Homo sapiens: one gene and its partners. The protein of the gene in region 1 interacts with the protein of each later gene in a biochemical or structural test. Each region holds a gene or a part of one and is shown on either strand. Other genes may lie near its edges.

Region 1 (7,022 bases):
AAGGCCTGTTCTTTAAAATTTATTTTTTAAATTCTTTTCTCTCTGCTTCTGTTTGGATGCCATCTGCTGACTTTGAGCCCCTCCCTTCAAGCTCCCGATCCTTTTCTTGCAGTTAGCTTTGTCCAGGGAGTTCCGTTTCAGAGGGATGTTTTCGTTCTGGAATTTCTATGTGGTTCTTTATAGAGTTACCATTCATCTTCCGGAAGCCTCCATTTTTCTGCTGTTTACATCCACACTTGTTGTCATCTCTGAGCATGTTTATAGTAGTTATTAAGAGGTTTTGCTGGCTGATTCCAGCCTCGGTCATCTGTGCGTCTGTCCGCTTCCAGTGTTTTGTTCTAATTAGAAACTACATCCTCCTGTCTCTTCACCTGCATCATCATAATTTCTTATCCTAAGCCAGACATCATGTGGAAGAGAATGGCAGAGACAGAAGTGAAGAATGGTCTCGCCCCGAACAGCCGCTGCTCTCCCGTGTCAGGCGTGGCCGGCGCCGGCCCGCGGCTTTAGCTGGTTTTCGCCACCGGCAGCCCGACTTCCGGGGCTTTGTGTTGTGCGCAGTGGGAAACAGCGTGTCGTCCGCCTTCTGCGCTGTGGGAGACGCCTTTCTCTGTGTCTGCCTGTGTTCTCTTCCTCCCCATTTGGTGGGATCCCTGGCAGGGGGCGTTGACAGACGGGCTGTTCTGCACCTGGGGAGCTGCCCGGGTACTCCGGCCGTGGCTGCAACCCTCAGAACTGCTGCTCCCACCTCCGCCTGCCGAGCCCTCCTCCCTCCTGCAGCAGCCTCGTCCCTGGGGATGGAAGGAGCCACCATGTTCCTTCTCGTAGAACAGGCGCCTCCCTTTCTAGGATGTAGTGCGTTTAGACGGTCCTCAGCTCTTCTGACTGGCCTCCCAGCCTCCCCCAGTCCTCTTCCCAGAGTGACTGGGGGTCCCCTGGGCGTTTGGGCCACGTCCGGCCACCCTGTGTGCCTGGCGGTCTGGTCTCCTTGGCCCTCAGGCCGCCGCGGGCCCCTCGCACGTGTTGTTCCAGCTCTCTGGCTCCCTTCCTGTCCCCTTATGTCTCCAGCAAGCTTGGTCTTCTCAGGGAGGCCTGCCCTGGCTGCCGCCTTTGAAACTGCGCCCACTTCCCACCCGCCCCGGCGCTCAACCTGCTTCCTTCCTGTGTAGCGGTTCCCTCTGAGGCAATGCAGGAGACACCACGTTCGCGGGCTTGGGGTCCTGTGTCCTTTGCAGCCATGCTGTTGGCTCACAGTGGGCACGAGCACTCTGCAGACCCTTCCCCGAGGAGGAGCCGGCCCCAGCCAGACACGGTGGCTCAAGCTCCACGGCTCCTGTGCTGGGACCCGTGCCAGCCTTGGACTGCTGGGGTGGGGGCAGGCACGTCTGCCTGGGATGGCTTTCTCTGCCGCTCCACTCGAAGGGGTCAGGACCTGAGCCCAGCGGGGCCTCCCTGGTCTGGAAGTTTCCCTCCTGCCCCCTTTGCCGTCTCCACGTAGTGGTGGCTGGAATTGAGATGCCGGAAACATTGATGGGTGGATCGAAAGGCCAGCGGAGGGGCCTGGGCACGGAGGACATGTGTTGGGTGGGTGGAGACCCACTGACCAGTCCGTTTGACACTGAGTGGTTCATGTCACGTCCTGTGGACAGGCTGCAGGGGAGTGGTGTGGCTGGCAGCTGGTGTGGGCCGAGGGGCTAGTGTACCCTTTCCACCCCTGTGCATCTCCTCCGCCTTGGCAGTGGGCGCGTTGGAGCGGACGTGGAGCGCTCGTGTGGAGCGTGCGTGGGCACCTTGGCTTGACCACAGCTGGTGTCATCCTTGGCAGATGGTCAAACTGAGGCACAGAGGCCACTCCGACCCTGGCTTTCGGGGCCGGCCTCCCGGCCACGGGTGAGCAAGGGTCTCACACTGTGTCTTGACGCCACCAGGTCGCGTGGGGCAGGCAGTGGCGCTGCGGGCCAAGGCCTTCGGCTTCAACGTGCTCTTCTACGACCCTTACTTGTCGGATGGCGTGGAGCGGGCGCTGGGGCTGCAGCGTGTCAGCACCCTGCAGGACCTGCTCTTCCACAGCGACTGCGTGACCCTGCACTGCGGCCTCAACGAGCACAACCACCACCTCATCAACGACTTCACCGTCAAGCAGGTGCGTGGAGCCGGGGACACAGGACTCTACTTCTGCGGGGCAGGTACAGGTGGGGGTGTCAGGCAGGTCCCTCCCAGCAGCCATCTGCACCTGGGCAAGACCCTGCCTTCAGCGAGCCACATGGCGGCGGCTGCCAGCCCTGCTGGGGGAAGCCCTGTCTGCCCAGACAGCGTTTTCTGTGTTCTGAGTTCTACTCAGGACATCTAAAATACTCTCTGGACAAGACAGAACCTCATACCTTTGAACACCAAATTCCCCTGAAGCCCTTGCTGTTGTCACAGTGGGGACAGATGCAGCTACCTGGGGGCGTTGGGTCGGCCCTTGTGACTTCCGTGCTGCCAGGTTCAGGTTTCACATCTGCAGCTGGAACGGGCTGTGCTCAGGTCGGCCTCTGACATCTGCAGCTGGAAAGGGCTGTGCTCAGGTCGGCCTCTGACATCTGCAGCTGGAACGGGCTGTGCTCAGGTCGGCCTCTGCCTCAGCACAGCTCGCAGTGCAGCCTCAGCCCTGCGTTCCCCTTGAGTGGGTGGAGCTGGGGATGGCTGCCTCCCGCTGGCTCCAGGCCCTTCAGGGAGTCATCGTGTGTGCACAGTGATGTGTATGTGTGTGGGCAAGTGTGCGTGGGTGCATGTGTCTGCATGTTTGTATGAGCTTGTATGTATGTGCATGTGTGTACACACGTGTCAGAGGCCACCCGCCCACTCTAGCTGCCCCAGCAGCCTGTAGCCACAAGGAGGATGAGGCCAGGTTCCCGCTGCCCCTTCCTTTGTTCACAGAGTCAGTGGGTTTGGAGCCTTCTAGGGGACAGGGTGTGGCACGTGGATGCTGGTCAGAGCCCTGCCGTCCCTGAGGACCTTGGGTGTGAGGCTTTAATGGGCAGCAGTGCACCAAAGAAAAGCCACCGTGACCTGCCCAGCTGTCAGCCAAGCACCGTGGCTGGGTGGACTTCTTGGAATGAAATGGGGGGGCTGCAGGAAAGCCCTGGCCACGAAGCCGAGGGAGAGCCACCCGCAGGGCTTTTTGCAAAAGTGCATGAAAAGCGAGCCTGTTCCGAAGACGGAGGCTCTGCTGCAGGCCCCGCTGGGGTTGGAGTCAAAGACCACGCCTCAGAACAGACGGCCCTGGGCTTTGCCGTCCCAGGGAGTCCCACCTCGTGGGCTGAGGCCCTGCGTGGGGGAGGCTGGGCTGGAGGGGACCCAGAAAAGGGGTACCACAGGGGGACCAAGCCAGGAGCCCCCGCCCAGTCCTCAGCTCAGGGCTTGGGCAGGAGGGTGGAGCTCTCTAGGAGCTGTGGGGCCGTGCAGGTCCATACAGGGCAGATCCTCAGCCAGCCTGTCAGGGCCGCGGTGCAGCACGCCCGAGGCCTTCAGTCCTAGCGCCGTGGTGAGCCCAGGGTGGGGCTGGGAAGGGGCTAGGGAGCTGGGCCTTCCCAACGGCGTGCGTGACCACCTTGCTTCCCTGGCTGCCCGCCCTGTGCGGATCCCTGACTGGGCCTGGCCTGTCCTTATGTCTTCTAGATGAGACAAGGGGCCTTCCTGGTGAACACAGCCCGGGGTGGCCTGGTGGATGAGAAGGCGCTGGCCCAGGCCCTGAAGGAGGGCCGGATCCGCGGCGCGGCCCTGGATGTGCACGAGTCGGAACCCTTCAGGTGCCCCCACGGCCAGTGCCGCCCCCCTGCTCTTCCCTGTCCACCATCCTGCCGGCCTTGACCTCCAGACGGCGCCTCTGCCAGGCCGGACACTTGCCTGTACTCAGGCCTCTCGCTGGCCAGCAGTGGGGGAGTTTGCCGCCCGCTGCGGGGTGAGGATGGAGCCACGGGCTCTAGGCCTGCCTTGCCTCGGTCCTGTGAGGGGCTGCTCAACCTCCTCAGCCCTTCTTTGGGCAGGGCTCCTGACCAACCAGGAGAGAGTGAGGCCCCAGTGTCTGTGAGTGGTCCCCATGGGCCCTGGCCATGGAGTCATGGCATCCCGTCCAGACCTGCAGCCCCTACAGCACCTTGGGACCCCAGGCAGCCCTGGGTTGGATGTTCAGCCGCAAGAGGAGACACCCCCACAGGGGCAGTATCAGCCTGCAGCTCCTGGGGCTACAGACCCTTTGGCTGGAAGGGGCCAGGCAGCATGTCCCCCCATCAGGGCTCCTCCCACGAGGGACTTGGAGATTAAATCCCTTGGGCTCCCACACCCGCCGCTGTCAGGAGCCCCTGGTGTGTCTGATGGTCCCGGGGCTGTGCTCTTGAGCTCAGCCAGCCTGCCGAGCAGAGCAGGGCCGTGGGGTCTGTGGTTCCCAGGCAGGGCCCCCCACAGGGGGTTCCAGTGCCCAGCCACCTCCCCTCCGTACCCAGCCACAGCACTCAGGCTGCACTGACCATGCCTGTGCTGTTCCCAGCTTTAGCCAGGGCCCTCTGAAGGATGCACCCAACCTCATCTGCACCCCCCATGCTGCATGGTACAGCGAGCAGGCATCCATCGAGATGCGAGAGGAGGCGGCACGGGAGATCCGCAGAGCCATCACAGGTGGGCGTGGGGGCCGCTCGGTCAGGCCTGGGGGTCCCTTCCTGCCAGCCCCAGATGCTCATGGGCTCGCATCCGCCTGGCAGCCAGGCCCATGTTCTGCCAGCTCAGGGCCCGTGGTGCTCTCACTGCACCCCCAGCAGGGACCTCTAAGGCCAAAGTCAAGTTGAGCCCTGGCGTCGTGTCTTACACACAGGACCTGCTGGGAAGTTGCTGGGCTGAGCAGACAGGTCCCTCAGCAAGCTGGGCACGTGCTCTGGGCTGGGGGTCCCCACGCTGCAAGGGTGCCAGTGCCCAGAGAGACAGGACCCTGCCGTGCCTTGGGAGCCCCGGGGCTGAGAGGGAGGAGCACACTGCCAAGAATCCTGCTGCCCGTGTCTTCAACCCAGTGGGCCACGCTCCTGGGGCCCCCTCAGAGCCACAGCTGTTCCTTCCTCCTGCATCTCCCAGGCCGGATCCCAGACAGCCTGAAGAACTGTGTCAACAAGGACCATCTGACAGCCGCCACCCACTGGGCCAGCATGGACCCCGCCGTCGTGCACCCTGAGCTCAATGGGGCTGCCTATAGGTGAGCAGGCCCGCTGGCCCAGAACAGCCTCCAGGAGGGCCCCAGGCTTCCCCTGGATCCCAGCACAGCCCCTGGTGGGAGGGGCGGCGTCTCCACTGACTGACCTGGAGGATCTGGGTAGAATTGGTAAGGCCAACCTCACCTGAAAGGCCCATGAGAACCAGGGCCTCTTGGAAGGAGCCTGGGCTGGGGTGGCCTTCAGGGCTCAGTGGACACAGGAGTGCCATGGGCACGGGGCCTGTGGGAGGAGGGGGCTTTGGGTGAGGCGAAGACCTCATGTTCAAGTCACCTGGAGACACCAGGGCTCCCCTCCCCAGCCCTGAGAAGTAGCTGCCATAGGCAGGAACATCCGTGTAAAGGCCGGGATCCTTACCCTGACTGCTGGTCCTCCTGGAGAGGCCCCCTCGGTGCTGCCGATGCTAGGAGGGCAGGTGGGGCCTGGCCAGGCCGCCTACAGGTGGGCCTCACGGATGGACCCTCTCCCAGCAGGTACCCTCCGGGCGTGGTGGGCGTGGCCCCCACTGGCATCCCAGCTGCTGTGGAAGGTATCGTCCCCAGCGCCATGTCCCTGTCCCACGGCCTGCCCCCTGTGGCCCACCCGCCCCACGCCCCTTCTCCTGGCCAAACCGTCAAGCCCGAGGCGGATAGAGACCACGCCAGTGACCAGTTGTAGCCCGGGAGGAGCTCTCCAGCCTCGGCGCCTGGGCAGAGGGCCCGGAAACCCTCGGACCAGAGTGTGTGGAGGAGGCATCTGTGTGGTGGCCCTGGCACTGCAGAGACTGGTCCGGGCTGTCAGGAGGCGGGAGGGGGCAGCGCTGGGCCTCGTGTCGCTTGTCGTCGTCCGTCCTGTGGGCGCTCTGCCCTGTGTCCTTCGCGTTCCTCGTTAAGCAGAAGAAGTCAGTAGTTATTCTCCCATGAACGTTCTTGTCTGTGTACAGTTTTTAGAACATTACAAAGGATCTGTTTGCTTAGCTGTCAACAAAAAGAAAACCTGAAGGAGCATTTGGAAGTCAATTTGAGGTTTTTTTTTTTGTTTTTTTTTTTTTTGTATGTTGGAACGTGCCCCAGAATGAGGCAGTTGGCAAACTTCTCAGGACAATGAATCCTTCCCGTTTTTCTTTTTATGCCACACAGTGCATTGTTTTTTCTACCTGCTTGTCTTATTTTTAGAATAATTTAGAAAAACAAAACAAAGGCTGTTTTTCCTAATTTTGGCATGAACCCCCCCTTGTTCCAAATGAAGACGGCATCACGAAGCAGCTCCAAAAGGAAAAGCTTGGGCGGTGCCCAGCGTGCCCGCTGCCCATCGACGTCTGTCCTGGGGACGTGGAGGGTGGCAGCGTCCCCGCCTGCACCAGTGCCGTCCTGCTGATGTGGTAGGCTAGCAATATTTTGGTTAAAATCATGTTTGTGACTGTAACCATTTGTATGAATTATTTTAAAGAAATAAAAATCCTGGAAAGAGCCAGCGTGCCCAGCATCTATTCTGGTGACTTTCTCTCATGAGGACACGGGTGAGCCTCAGTCCTGGCTCTGGTGACCTCCACGGCTCAGCTCAGCCTCTCTGAAGTGGGCGGCCTAAGAGAGACCCAGAGACAGTGCAGTGGCAGGTTGGGCAGTGGTCTCTGTGTGTACCGGGCCTGTCCCTCTGCCCACTGGGTCTGTGGGACGCTGTAGGGTCCTGGCTTGGAGGCGGCCTGCCCGCAGTGCCCCAGTGGGAGGGAAGCAGTGTGCCAGCCGGGCCGTTGTGTGGATGATGGTGTGACTGGCTGAGGTCCTGCCCCACTGCCCACCCCTCCCT
Region 2 (7,022 bases), on another chromosome or scaffold:
GTGACCATAGAGCCACCCATGCCTCACAGTCCTCTCTCCCATCCCTCCTAGCTCACTGGATCCAGGTGGTGGCCTCTCCACTTCTCAGTATGAAAAGATGGGCAAGGCACTTTTTTTCTTGGTGCCAGTCTCTCCTCATTTCTGGAACTCACACCCGCGCTTTCAGAGGCTCACCCACTCCCCTCCACGCAACGGCACAGACACCCTCACTCCTCTGCGCTCTGGCACACTCGCCTGCAACCAGCCCGCGGACACACGTGTGCAAGGGGCATGTCCACAGCTGCCCCGGCTCACCCTGCGGCTGCGCGCCACCATGAGCGGCGTGTCGTTGTGGCAGTTCTTGAGGCTGCTGTCAGCGCCGCTGCGGACCAGCGTGCGCACCAGCGGGAGGAGCCCGCGGCCGGACGCTGAGTGCAGGGCGGAGCTGCCGGAGTACATTTGCGCGTTCACGTTGGCGCCGTGCTGCGGGACGGGAGGGCCGGGTCAGGAGGGCGCGCGGGCCACCCGGGGTAAGGGAACAGAGGCTGGAGGCCCGGGTGGGTGGCCGGCACGTGGGGCGGCACCGGATCGGGGTGGGGTCACAGGAAGGTAGGAGCGAGAGCCAAGGGCAGGCCAAGCGGGACTGCGTTGGCGGCGATGAATTAACCGGAGCTGGACACCGAGGCCCGCGCCCCAAGGAGTCGGGGGAGCTGGAGGGGGGAAGGACAATGCGTGGACAGGGCCTAGCTGGAAGGCGGGGTCAGCCAGGCCATCGCAGGGCGGGGCCTAGGCCGTTGAGGTGGCAGAGGAGGAATGGGACAAGTTCGTAGCCAGGGGCGTGGAGCCCGAGGGTCGAGAAAACTAGGCCTTAAAGGATCAGAGCTGGACGCGGAGCAGGAGCCGGAGCCAGAAGTGGAAGGCGGGGTCAGAGCTAGGGGCTGAGGCCAGAGCCGGGTTGGGGTCAGAGGATAGGGTGGGCGCGAGGCTCAGGGGGGCTGTACGCACCTGCAGCAGCAGCTGCACCATGCTAAGGCTGTTGTTTTCCACGGCGTGGATGAGCGGGGAGCGGCCGCTCTTAATGTCCTGCGGCGGGGAGGGAAGGTCTTAGTTTCTCCAAGCTCTGCTCCAGCAGCCGGCGACCCGCATCCCGTCCACATCCCATTCGCGGGGTCCAGCCTCTCTCTTGGGTCTGATACTCCAAGCCCCACCCCACCCGGGTGCTCTCCCACGCCAGCCCCACACTGGCCCCGCCCCCGCCAAGACCCCGCCCCTGCTAAGGCCCCGCTCCCTCCCAGCTCCTAGTGCACGCTCACCACTGCGTCGATGTCGGCACCGCGCTCTAGCAAGAGCTGCACGGTTTCTTGGCACTCGGTGTTCACTGCCACGTGCAGGGCGGTGAGCCCTGAGGGAGAGGAGGGCTCGGTGAAACCTAGGCCCGGGCTTTGCGGCCGCTGATGGACTCCAGGTCCGCTGGACAGCCCAGCGGTGCCCCGCGGTAAATGCTTACCGTCATAATTGCGGGCCTCCAGGTCCAACGTGCCCGGAGCTGCGCTGTCCAGCAGGGCTCGCAGGCAGGTCGGGCTGCGGTGCTCGCACGCCAGGTGAGCGGCCGTCTGGCCATGGCGGTCCAGCGCCATGGGGCTGGCACCAGCTGTCACCAGGAGCCGGACCACAGACGGTAATGTGGTGATCACAGCCAGGTGGAGCGGTGTCTGGGGAACAGTGACTGTGAGGGACCTGTGTCCAGCCCTGCTCTCTAGTCCTGCCTCCCCCAGGTTTTCTGAACCCTTATTCCTCATCCTGCAGTCTTCCCCAGGAACAGAAACCTGAGACACCTCCTGTCTCAGATTCAAGAGTCCGGGCCCCATGCTCCTCCTTCCCCAGGACCCAGAAGACTGGGCCTCCAACCTCCTCTTTCCCTAGTACCTGAATTCTGGGTCCCCAGCCCCCTCCCTCCTCACTAGGAGGTCTTTAGGCCCCCTCCCTCTCAGGAACAACCAGTCCGAGGCCCCAGAGCCCTTCTTCCCCAGGAACCAGGAGCCTGGAGCACCTCGCTACTTAGAGTCCAGACCCCAGCCCTCCTCCCTCAGACCCAGGAGTCCAGACCCCCAGCCCTCCTCCCTCAGACCCAGGAGTCCAGATCCCCAGCCCTCCTCCCTCAGACTCAGGAGCCCAGGACCCAGCCCTCCTCCATCAGACCCCGGATCCCAGGCCCGCAGCCCTCCTCCATCAGACCCAGGAGTCCAGGCACCAGTCCCTCCTCCCTCAGACCCAGGGGTCCAGGCCCCAGCCCCCCTCCCTCAGACCCAGGAGTTCAGGCCCCCAGCCCCTCCTCTGTCAGACCCAGGAGTCCAGGCCCCAGCCCTCCTCCCTCAGACCGAGCCTCACCTGCCGTAGGTTGTTGTAGATGTCGAGCTCCCGGCCCCCCTGCTGGAAGAGGTTGACCAGCCGGTGCACAGCTGGCAGGTTACCCTGCACCACAGCAATATGGAGAGGCCTGGGGGTGGGGGAGTGAAGGAATCACAGGCATTAGGGGTTGTTCACCTCTCACCCTCATGCTGTTGGCAATGCTAACTCCAATGTGTTGAATACTTTGGAAATGTCCCCAGTATTCAAACACTTCTCCCCACCCACTCCCTCCATCCTGATTTACCACCCGCTCCCTCCATCCTGCTTTAGCCACCACTGGCTCCCTGCTGGTCTAGTACAGTTCCATCCTCATGGCTTCTCTGCTTCCACCTATGCTCTACTGTCTGTCCCCCACACAACAGCCAGAGGGACCCTTTTATTTTATTTTATTTTATTTGTTTGAGACGGAGTGTTGTTCTATCGCCCAGGCTGGAGTGCAGTGGTGCTATCTTGTGCTCACTGCAATCTCTGCCTCCCAGGTTCAAGCGATCATCCAACCTCAGCCTCCTGAGTAGCTGGGATTACAGATGTGTGCCATCGCGCCCAGCTAACTTTTGTATTTTTAGTAGAGACATGGTTTCACCATGTTGGCCAGGCTGGTCTCTAACTGCTGGGTTCAAGTGATCCTCCTGCCTCAGCCTCAGCCTCCCAAAGTGCTGGGATTACAGGCGTGAGCCACCACGCCCAGTCTGGAACAAAAGTTTTGACTAAAAGGGAGGTGAGGACAAACTGGGATGGGGCCATTGTTCTGGAGGCGGTACAGTCCAGAACCCCCTTCTAGACTGAAGGACTCACTCCCTCAGCTTCTGGGAAGATTGTCAGCTTTCAGACCATTTGGGAATTACCCTCAACTCAAGAGAGCTGCTTGTCCAAGGTCACGCCCCATGTGAATCAAGGGCAGCTGCCCTTCAATGGCATCCAGTCACTGGTTAATGCCAGCATAGAAGGCCTAGCCTCCTGACCCCAATGCTGAAGGCCATTCCAGCTTCAATATTCCCTGTGGGACAGCTGAGGCCGTGTGGAGGCGACACAGCAGCTCAACTTCTCCCTCTGCCCAGATGGGCTTCCTTCATCCCACAGGTGTTGATGGAGAGCATTTCCAATAAACTTCCTGCTCAGTTTCCAGAGACCCCAACCTAGAACAGCTATTCAGAGACTGGTGTGTGTGCATGCGTGCGTGCTTGTGCACGCCTGTGCTGTTTGCATGGGGTGGGGGACAGAGTGGAGGACCCAAGGAGGACTGCGTGTACACAGTGGGTGGCAGGATCTTTATTTAAAGTTTACTAAGTAATTCCTTTCTCACCAGCACCCGTTTCTCTTGTGGAATGTGTCTCTAGAATCCAGTTTAAACTAGCCTCCCAGGTGGTTCTGATGGAGTGCAGAAATCCCGGGGCCAGAGTTGCAAATTGGGCCACAACCCCTCCTAGCGTAGCCGCGTGCTAGGGCAAAGCCATGGGGGCCTTTCGGAGCCTCAGTTTTCTCTTATGTAAAGTACAGCGTCCACATGCCAGGGTGAGATCACGCAGGTGAATCGCTGAACCTGACTCCTAATCCGTGAAAGCCAAATTTAAAAATAAAATGTTGAGGGAGGGGCCGGGGTCCCTGGGAAGGGTCCCCCCTTCTCTGCATCTCCCAGGACGCCTGGCCTGGGTCCCTCTCGGGGCGGCCAGGGTTAAGTGAGGGCAGACGCAGCGAATGATTTCAGAGAAACCGTCCAGGCCTGAGTTCCCATAAACGCGCGGGCCGCAGGGGGTGGGGCGGGGCTGGAGGAAGTGGGGACGGGAGGGGCGACCCAGCCCTCGGACTTCCAGTAACAGGTCTGCTGGGCGGGGCTCTGCTTCCTGCTCCCGGGGGAGGGAAGCCTGTCCCGCCGGGGATCTACCCTGGCCACCCCTGGCACCCCAACTTCCATCCTCGAATGGGGCGGGGGAAGGGAGTGCCCAGCCCAAGAAGACCTAGCTCCCTTGAGGTGTGTGTGTGTAGGGGGGGCGCATAATCCCGAGTCCTCCCGCCTGGGGGACCCTCTGGAACTCCACCCCGCAGAGCTCAGGCTCCAGCTGGCTGCAAGTCCTCCTTATCCCGGCATCCACCCCCAACATCTCTTGGGAGCCAGAAATAGCCCTAACTCTTCTTTAAGAATAAGGACTTCCCCCGTCCTTCAGAGCTCCAGGATCCCAAACTACCTTGCCAGTCCTTGTCCCCTCAGAGACCCAGAAATACAGCGCCTCAAACCCTGGCCCTTTGGGAACACAGACTTTCAGGCCCCTTGGCGTGACCAGTTTCACCAGCCCAACGTCCTGCTGCCGCTGTCGTGAAATTCTTAAGTTTTGAACAAGGGACTCTGCAAATTTCTGTATCTGGTCCTGCCCGTAAAGCCCCTCTGAGTGCCAGGTCCCCAAGCTGCCAAGCTGCTCCTCATCCCCTCGGAGATTAAGGAATACAGTTCCCCAACTTCTGCCTTCTGAGAATCAGAACATCACCCCCCCCCCCCGCCCCCGCCTTCCTGCCCCCTCCCCAGGTTTCTGGCTGCCCAGTCCCTAACCTCTTGGGGGTCCAAATGCCCCAAGGCTCGTACCCGCCTGTGAGGAGATGGAAGCCCAGCCTCCCAACCTTTTGGCTTCTGCGGGGACCCAGACTTAGCGTCCCCCGCCCTCCTCGCCCCCACTGCCCTCCCCCGCGGGTGTGAAGAGGAGCCGGTGGCGCAGGCTGGGGCCGGGCCGCTGCCCGTTCCGGTAAAGTCTCAGCCCCAGCGGAAGGGGTTAAGGTTGGAGGAAGCGCCAGGAGGGGGGAGGCTGCGAGTGAGTGACGGGTGCTGACGTGGGGGAGGCAGAGCAGCTGGGTTGCGGTCAAGTTCTGCGGGAAGGGATTTCCCCCAGCAGGCAGCTGAGGCAGAAGTGTTTGCCTTGGGGGAGAGTCGGAGAGGGAGGGTGTGGGGAGGGCCTGGGGCTGGAGACTGGTGGGCCGGGTGGCCTCTGGCAAGCACCCTGCTTTTCAACAGCATGGACAGCTCACCACTGGGGGCAGAGACTGTCTGATTAAGCCCATTTCATAGATGACCCCCCAGAGGTACCCAGAAGGGGAGGGAACTAGGTTTTATTAGCTCTTTATAATCTAGGCCACTTTCTCCTGCTAGGGCTCTGGAGATGGCCTGCAACCACCCTGGGAGCTCTGCTCAAACATTACCCATTTCCATGCATTGAGCACTTACTGTTTGCCCAGCCCTGTTCTGTGCACTGTATTAATACATGTGTACAAGATCTCACTGAATCCTAATTGTGATAGGTGCTATTATGAGACCCAGTTTCCAAATAGGGAAACTGAGACTCAGGGACATGAAATCACTCAGTGGGCCAGTGGCGGAGCAGCCCTCTGCTACTTCTCTGCAGAAACAGGCCTGTTCATCTCTACCTGTGGTTTCCAGGCCCCAAACTAATTCTCACAGAAGTGCTTTGTATAAATCATGTCATTTCTTCCTCCCAGAGACCCTCACACGCGATGGTTCCTGTTTTTACAGAGAGGGAAACTGAGGCACAGAGGGAGTAGAACGTGGCCACGCTGAGATTCCAACCCAGGTCAATAGAATAATAAGAATCATGATGATCAATTGCAGTGAGTGCTTACTATGTGCTAGGCACAGACCAAACCCTCCCGTGCAGGACTTCTCAGCAGCCTCACAAACATGTTCTTCAGACTGCAGGTGATAAACCATGGGGGTTGTGAAATCAATTTAGGGGATCTTCAAATTAATGTAGTGGGCTGTGACCATGAAACAATGAAGTCGACTAGAATAGAAAATGGCAAAGTAAAGCTGTAAGCTGGGCTCGGTGGCTCACATCTGTAATCTCAGCACTTTGGGAGGCTGAGGTGGGAGGATCACTTAAGCCCAGGAGTTTGAGACCAGTCTGGGCAACATAGCAAGACTGCTGTGTTTCTACAAAAAAAAAATACAAAAATTAGCCAGGTGTGGGGGTAGCGTCTGTGGTCCCAGCTACTCAGGAGGCTGAGGTGGGAGGATCATTTGAGCCCAAGAGATCAAGGCTGCAGTGAGCTATGATTGCACCACTGCACTCCAGCCTGGGTGACAGATCGAGACCCTGTCTCAGAAAAAAAAAAAAGAAAAAGAAAAAAAGAAAAAAAGAAAATGTCACAGTAGAACCCACATAGTAAGGGCGAGTATTGTTTCATTTTGTGCAATTTTAATTTCAAGTTTGTGTGTGTGTGTGTGTGTGTGTGTGTGTGTGCTGGGTTTGAGATAAAATAATAGTAATATTAACAAACACTTACTCAACATTTATGCCAGGTCCAGTGATAGTTTTACATGTATAATTCATATAGTAAGTTAATCAATGAACTGTCTTTCTTGTTTTTAGGTTGTGACAAAATATCTAAAGACCACCGTTCCAAAAATAGTGTTCTAGGGGTGGGCTTGGGGCTCATGCCTGTAATCCCAGCACTTTGGGAGGCCAAGGCGAGTGGATCACTTGAGGTCAGGAGTTTGAGACCAACCTGGCCAACATGGTGAAACCCTGTCTCTACCAAAAAATACAAAAATTAGCCAGGCTTGGCAGTGGGCACCTGTAGTCTCAGCTACTCGGGAGGCTGTGGCATGAGACTCACTTGAACTTGGGGGGCAG
Region 3 (7,022 bases), on another chromosome or scaffold:
CATCTGCCTACAACTGCATGAGACCCTGAAACAGAACTGACCAGCCAAGCCTTTCCTGAATTCCTGAGCCACAGGAACTATGAAGATAAGAAAATGGTATTGTTTGAATCCTCTGAGTTATTCAAGTGATTCATTCATTATGTAGCAATACTATCCATAGCACTTTATTAGCCAAAATTATCTCTATAATTTCCCCTCATTAGTCCAAGTGCTAATTTCTCTTTCACATGATACTTGCATCAAATAAATTTGAGAAACTATTGTCTTCTGAATAGATTTAAAGTGGTCATACTTTAGATTTTCTCTTTTCTACAAAAATGAGAAAAACATGATCAGAGGCTAGTATCAGGAACAAAATAATCTTAAAAGCAAAGTATCCTCTTAAGAAGAGTTATTTAGTGTCATACAAGCCATAAAATGGCAATAAACTACTGTGAAGGTTTTTTCTTTTAATAGGTATTGGCTTCTCTACCCAGGTAACCATCTGCTTCATCATATGGTTTGCTATTTGTCATTGAAGAACAAATAAGGCAAAGACTACTAAAGTTTTCTTTGATTTACTGCATTTAAGGCAGCAGTAGATAAGTAGATTCAAAAGAAGCCAGGGCAAGACTATTTTATTTTTTGCTCTGAGCAGGTAGACTATAGAAAATTCAGCAGAAGATAAGGAATGCACACCCAGCCTCAATGTATTCGGCTTCTAACAAATGATCACTGGGGAATGTCTCTGCTTTTAGCACTGCTTCCCCATGTGGCAGGCCCTCGCTCTTCAATACATAAGGATGATAAATGACAACTGTTCATAGTCTAGCTGTTCTCATGTCATGTGCCTCTACAGTTAGGAATGTTGCTAAGGTACTGCTAACCAAAATCCTCCTATTGTTCTCATCTCTTCCGGAAAATCAAGACTTTGGGTAAAGAATTAATAGTTTCTCACTACAAAGGGCTGTAGACCACTAATTTGGCCAAATTGCCTTATCAGTAGAGGTGGAATACAGCAGATTAACTCAGCATATACACTATCATTCTGAATGTTAACCTGTAAAACTATACTAAGACTTCTCGGTAGATTTCTCCTTTCTTTCCTTATCAAATTTCTTTAGAAAACGTTAATTCTAACACAGGACTCAAGACTTACTGTTATACCACTTATAAAAAATTGTCTACACCAGGGATCAGCAAACTTTTTCTTAAAGGGTCAGAAAATAACTATTTTAGGCTTGTGGGGCTATAAGGTCTCTGCATCAACTACTCAACTCTGCAGCTGTATGGAACAAACAGCGATGGGCAATACATAAAGAAATGAATAAGGCTGTGCTCTGGTAGAACTTTATTTACAAAACTGGTAGCTGGCTGTCATTTGCAAATCCCTGGAAGCCATATGAATCTTTTCTGAAATGAAATTAGTTTGGTTAAAGACTTTTTTTCTGACGCACTGAAACTGAGCTTTCCTAAGAGGAACATAAAGTTAACAGAGCAGGAAAAAACCTGCTTTATGGTGAAGAGGTCACTTGAGCTAATCAGTGCAATGGTACAACTACAAACTTCACACAACGTTATTAAAAAAAATAACAAAACAAAAACAGATCTTACTTGAACTTTTTTCTCCCTTCTGCTCTTGCTTCTTCATTTTTAAGAGAACGGTTTCACTAACCAATGTACAGTCCATGTCCACTGTCTCTCCTCCTAATTTTGACTGACTGCCATCCTAAATAAATATTTTAAAAATCAAAAATTTTAACAATTATTCCTTTATGGTCTTATATTTAATTTTTACAAAACATTTTGGTAAAATATACATAACATACATTTTACAACTTTTAAGCATTAAGCTATATTTGCTTTTATACTTTACGAACAGGTAAGGATTTAGGTTTTACTGCTTATAAAACATTTTAGCTTCAATATAATCAAGCCTAGGAAAAGAAGGACTGCTGCCAAGGAAAGGGAGAATTATTTACCACTAAACACCCCTGAACTTTTCCTGCCTTTATTTTCCAATTTGCCTTATAGTAATGAACATCAATGTACACTAAGAACACTTTCAAAAATTAAATTAAATTTCTTGATAGGCATATATTACTCAGCGTATGTTAAATACTTTGTTATTAATATGCTACCAAGTGAAAGAGAACTTCTGAAACTACACAGAAGCTAAATACAAGACAAAAAACTATTTCCACTATGAATTTTAACTTTTAAAAATAGTCAACTTGGAAAATGAATTTTATGGTACATTATTTTAAAGGTAATGAAGACATGATGAATTATTTTAATGAATGATAAAATTATATAAGATATGCAGCATTTTGCATTATTTTAATTTATGAGACAGGGTCTTGCTCTGGTTGCCTAGGCTGGATGTGCAGTGGTGTGATCATACCTCACTGCAGCCTCGAATTCCTGGGTTCAAGGTATCCTCCCAACCTCAGCCTCCCAAGTAGCTAGGACTACAGGTATGCACTGCCATGCCCAGCTAACTTTAAAATTTCCTATAGAGACAGGGCCTTGCTATATTGCCCAGGCTGGTCTCGAATTCCTGGCTTCAAGTGATTCTCTCTCTTCGACCTCCCAGAGTGTTGGGATTACAGGCATGAGCCACTGCGCCTGCCCACTGCATTCTTTTAAAAACTATATTAATATTTTTCAGTAAAGGCCTTTAAAGTCAGAAAGTATTACCCTTTAAAAAATACCATAAAGTTAGAAGAATAAGCATTTTTATTTCTTAATTTTCTGCATAAATACATGTAGGTTTTAAGACGTATCTGATTATCTTAAGGTGATACAGTGAGTCACGAGAGGAGGTTGACTAACAACTCATTGGAATAAAAGTCAAATGAGTTTTGGTTTTACTTTTTAACTTACCTTTGTATCTATTACAGTAACATCCATTTTATACTGAGAAAGGTCTGCTCCCGGATCTATACTCCACTGGATATTTTCAAAGGATACATCTTAGGTAAAGGGAAAGAGCATGCAATTAAAAAACTGATTTCAAAAATTCTCATCACTTTAAAATATTATGGGACCTAAAGAATAGAAAATTTTTGCAAATCATATGTCTGGTAAAGGACTTATATCTAAGATATATAAAGAACTCTCACAGCTCCATAATAAAAAGACAAATATCCCAATTAAAGATGGGCAAAGGATCTAAATAGACAGTTCTCCAAAGAAGATATACAAATTGCCAATAAACATGAAAGGATGCTCAACATCATCAGCAGTCAAGGAAATGCAAACCAAAACCACGAGATGGCAAAAATCAAAAAGCTATAACAAGTGCTAGTGAGGAGGTGGAGATACTGGGACCCTCACATACTGCTGGTGGGAATGTGAAATGGTGTAGCTGCTTTGGAAAACAGGCAGTCTTTCAAAAGGTAAAATGTAGAATTGGCATATGGCCCAACAATTCCACTCCTAGGTATAATCCAAGAAAAATGAAAACATACATCCACACAAAAACCTGTATACAAATGTTCATAGCAGCATTGTTCATAATAGCAAAAAAGTGACAACTTGAATGTCAGCTAATAAATACCTAAAATATGGTATACTTATGCAATAAAAAATTATCCAATAAAAAGAAATAAAATATTGATATATGCTGTAACACAGATAACTGAAAACATTATGCCAAGTGAAAGAAGTAACAAAAGATCATATATTAAACGATTCCATTTATATGAAAACTCCCAGAATAGGCAAATCTACAAAGAGAGAAAGTAGATTTAAGGTGCCTAGGACTGCAGAGGGTATATGGGGAAGGAAAGTGATGAAAATGTTGTAAACCTAGACTACAGTGATGGTTGTACAACTCTGTGGGTATACCAAACCACTGAATTGAACATTTTAATGGGTGATTTTTATGGTATGTGATTTATATTTCAATTAAAATTTTTTAAAATTAAAAACTATAACATTGATGGGGTTTTCAATATATGTAGATAAAATACACAGGAACTACATAAAGTGTAGTTACAGAACATGAAATAGTACATTAACTCCAAGTAGATTGTAAAAGGCTAAGTAGGTAGATACTGTAATCCCTAGAGCAACCATGAAAAAAATAAAAACAAAAAGCTCAAAAAAAATCATGAATGATAGTGAAAAAAATGTTTTCATATAGAGACTAAAACACTCACTGGAAAAACAACTAATGACTGTGCTTCAGGAAAAAGGGAAAATAAACCCAGAATAAAGGAATAACTTGCCAATGAAGAATACAAGAAAAAATACTGCACTTGAACTACAGAAATGTTTGGTGGCTGAAAAAAAAAATTACTTTTTTAAAGATAGCAGGCTGGGCGTGGGTGGTTCACACCTGTAATCCCAGCACTTTGGGAGGCCAAGGCAGGCAGATGGCTTGAGTCCAGTAGTTCGAGACCAACCTGGGCAACAAGGCGAAACCCAGTCACTTCAAAAAATAAAAAAATCAGCTGGGTGTGGTGGTGCATGCTTGTAGTCCCAGCTATCCAGGGGGCTGAGATGGGAGGATCCACCTGAGCCTGGGAGGTCAAGGCTGCAAGTGAGCCGTGATCATGCCACTGCACTCCAGTCTGGGTGACAGAGTAGGACCCTGTCTCAAATAATAATAATAATAATAATAAAATATAGCAAAATTATGAAAAGATGCCTATATATCTTAAGGCAAACAATTTTTTTTTTCTTTTTTTTTTTTGAGACGGAGTCTTGCTCTGTCACCCAGGCTGGAGTGCAGTGCAGTGGCACGATCTCGGCTCACTGCAAGCTCCACCTCCCGGGTTCACACCATTCTCCTGCCTCAGCCTCCCGAATAGCTGGGACTACAGGCGCCTGCCACCATGCCTGGCTTATTTTTTGTGTTTTTAGTAGAGATGGGGTTTCACCACGTTAGCCAGGATGGTCTCGATCTCCTGACATCGTGATCCACCAGCGTCGGCCTCCCAAAGTGCTGGGATTACAGGTGTGAGCCACCGTACCGGGCCAACAATGTTTTTAAAGGAGTTTAAAAACGTATATAAGTGGCCGGGCGCAGTGACTCACGCCTGTAATCCCAGCACTTTGGGAGGCCGACGCTGGTGGATCACGATGTCAGGAGATCTAGACCATCCTGGCTAATGTGGTGAAACCCCGTCTCTACTAAAAATACAAAAAAAAAAAATTAGCCGGGCATGGTGGGCGCCTATAGTCCCAGCTACTCGGGAGGCTGAGGCAGGAGAATGGTGTGAACCCGGGAGGCGGAGCTTGCAGTGAGCCGAGATCGCGCCACTGCACTCCAGCCTGGGCGACAGAGCGAGACTCCGTCTCAAAAAAAAAAAAAAAAAAAAAAAAGAACAGAAAAATCACCGGTAAAATGTGAGAATCGTCCTATAAATACAGACACCTGAAGGAAGAAATAAGTTTTTTTCCAAAACAATTCAATCTATTTAAAAAAGTAAATAATGACATTCAATCTGAAGTCATTAAAAAAGTGGAGATCCTGTTTATGGTGTACACACCTTGGTTGTTTTGTAGAGACTTTATTTTACCAGTTCTACATGGATTTAACTGAAGAACTGATGCAAGTTCACATCCTCCATGGTCTGACCTGGTTTGTATTTTTATTGGCTCATGAGAACCAGCACTCTAAAACAGAAATAATTGTTAGCTCTAAATGAAATCACAAGCAATCATTTTAATCAAAATCCTTGAACATTTAACACAAACCTTTATGTCATCTAAAACATTCTCAGTCTCCAAACTTTCACGTGGACGTAGAGGAATTTTAAAGACAGCATTTTCTTCTTTTATTTGTAATGATGGTTTATTGTCTGGAGAGCATTTATTCAAGGGCTGAAGGATGATGCATTCCTGTGAACAGGGCTCCCCTGGGGAATCTTTGGGCAACGTGCAGTTGCCATCTGAGGCCTTACGGCTTGAGGAAAAGCCCTTTGGAATGGTCTTCAAAGCCTCATAAAGAGTCACTTGCCTAAATTTGTTTTTAGAAGTCTCACTTCCTTGGCTTTTCTCTTGACGCTGAATAGCTGAAAATCGATCAGACAGATCCAGAGGTTTATCCATCACACAGTCTCCATTCATGGAAAACTGATTATCCATTGGAAAAGGGAAAGCATTTTCTTTATCAAAAGAAGCTTGGGGGCAGCTTACTTCATGTTCACTTTCTTCCTCAGTTTTCTTCCTTTTGGATGTTCGGCCTCCCAATGATTTCAGGGGCTCCAAATGTTTATCAGTGTTAGAATCTTTACCGTACTCAGTCCTATTCTGTTCACCTAGGGATTCACTTATATTTTTATTTATAAGTATCTGTTTATTAGATGACTGGATAATGATCTTGTTCACTTCAGACCCAAGACTGTGATGTGTGAAAAGGGCACTATCTTCAGATTTTGATCTAGTTTTTTCTAATCTAGATATACAAGTGTTGCTAAAAGGGAGTGTTTTCAGATGTTTTTTTTTCCCAGGCTGTAAAAGAGAAGGGGACAAACTTGTATTCAAATCTAAACCACTTTTGATACTAGAGGTAGCTCCAAATACAGGAGATGACACTCGAGTAGGTAATTCTTCTTGAGGAGGAGTCTTTGAAGTAGAATCTGAAAATCTAAATAAAGAGTGATAACAATTCTTTAATACAGAATTAATAGTAAGGTCTTATCTACCTCTTAGAAGCAAATGATTAACCAAAATTTAAGACAAGGTACAGCTTTTGGCTTCTCTTCATTTAGATGACAAAAGAGAAGGGGAAAAGCAGAGGAAAATGACATAGGAAGTATTTCTCAACACCATAATATTCATATTTTAAAAATTTTTCCTAAGTACTTTAAATAACTTTATTATACAAAAAATCATCTTTTGCCAGGCGCAGTGGCTCATGCCTGTAATCCCAGCACTTTGGGAGGCCAAGGTGGGCAGATCACTTGAGGCCAGAAGTTCGAGGCCAGCCTGGCTAACATGGTGAAACCCCATCTCTACTAAAAATACAAAAATTAGCCGGGTGTGGTGGCACACGCCAGTAATCCCAGCTACTCTGGTGGCTAAGGCAC

What was found.
Region 2: the proteins of CTBP1 (region 1) and BCL3 form a complex in vitro, tested with the Homo sapiens proteins (one study listed by BioGRID).
Region 3: the proteins of CTBP1 (region 1) and RBBP8 form a complex in vitro, tested with the Homo sapiens proteins (3 studies listed by BioGRID and IntAct).

What each region holds. Positions count from the first base shown.
Region 1 is NC_000004.12:1,211,112-1,218,133, reverse strand, and holds the end of CTBP1 (C-terminal-binding protein 1), read left to right. Parts: exon of another isoform or gene 1-1,928; coding exon 1,929-2,143; exon of another isoform or gene 2,144-2,175; intron 2,176-2,443; exon of another isoform or gene 2,444-2,588; intron 2,589-3,660; coding exon 3,661-3,791; intron 3,792-4,528; coding exon 4,529-4,656; intron 4,657-5,103; coding exon 5,104-5,221; intron 5,222-5,363; exon of another isoform or gene 5,364-5,459; intron 5,460-5,594; exon of another isoform or gene 5,595-5,707; coding exon of another isoform or gene 5,708-5,710; coding exon 5,711-5,894; 3' UTR 5,895-6,689; downstream 6,690-7,022. UniProt on the Homo sapiens protein: Corepressor targeting diverse transcription regulators such as GLIS2 or BCL6. Has dehydrogenase activity. Involved in controlling the equilibrium between tubular and stacked structures in the Golgi complex.
Region 2 is NC_000019.10:44,751,686-44,758,707, reverse strand, and holds part of BCL3 (B-cell lymphoma 3 protein), read right to left. Parts: intron 2,477-7,022; coding exon 2,368-2,476; intron 1,692-2,367; coding exon 1,487-1,691; intron 1,382-1,486; coding exon 1,293-1,381; intron 1,063-1,292; coding exon 985-1,062; intron 463-984; coding exon 295-462; coding exon of another isoform or gene 163-294; exon of another isoform or gene 1-162. UniProt on the Homo sapiens protein: Contributes to the regulation of transcriptional activation of NF-kappa-B target genes. In the cytoplasm, inhibits the nuclear translocation of the NF-kappa-B p50 subunit.
Region 3 is NC_000018.10:22,992,306-22,999,327, reverse strand, and holds part of RBBP8 (DNA endonuclease RBBP8), read right to left. Parts: intron 6,581-7,022; coding exon 5,689-6,580; intron 5,608-5,688; coding exon 5,481-5,607; intron 2,955-5,480; coding exon 2,866-2,954; intron 1,709-2,865; coding exon 1,594-1,708; intron 1-1,593. UniProt on the Homo sapiens protein: Endonuclease that cooperates with the MRE11-RAD50-NBN (MRN) complex in DNA-end resection, the first step of double-strand break (DSB) repair through the homologous recombination (HR) pathway.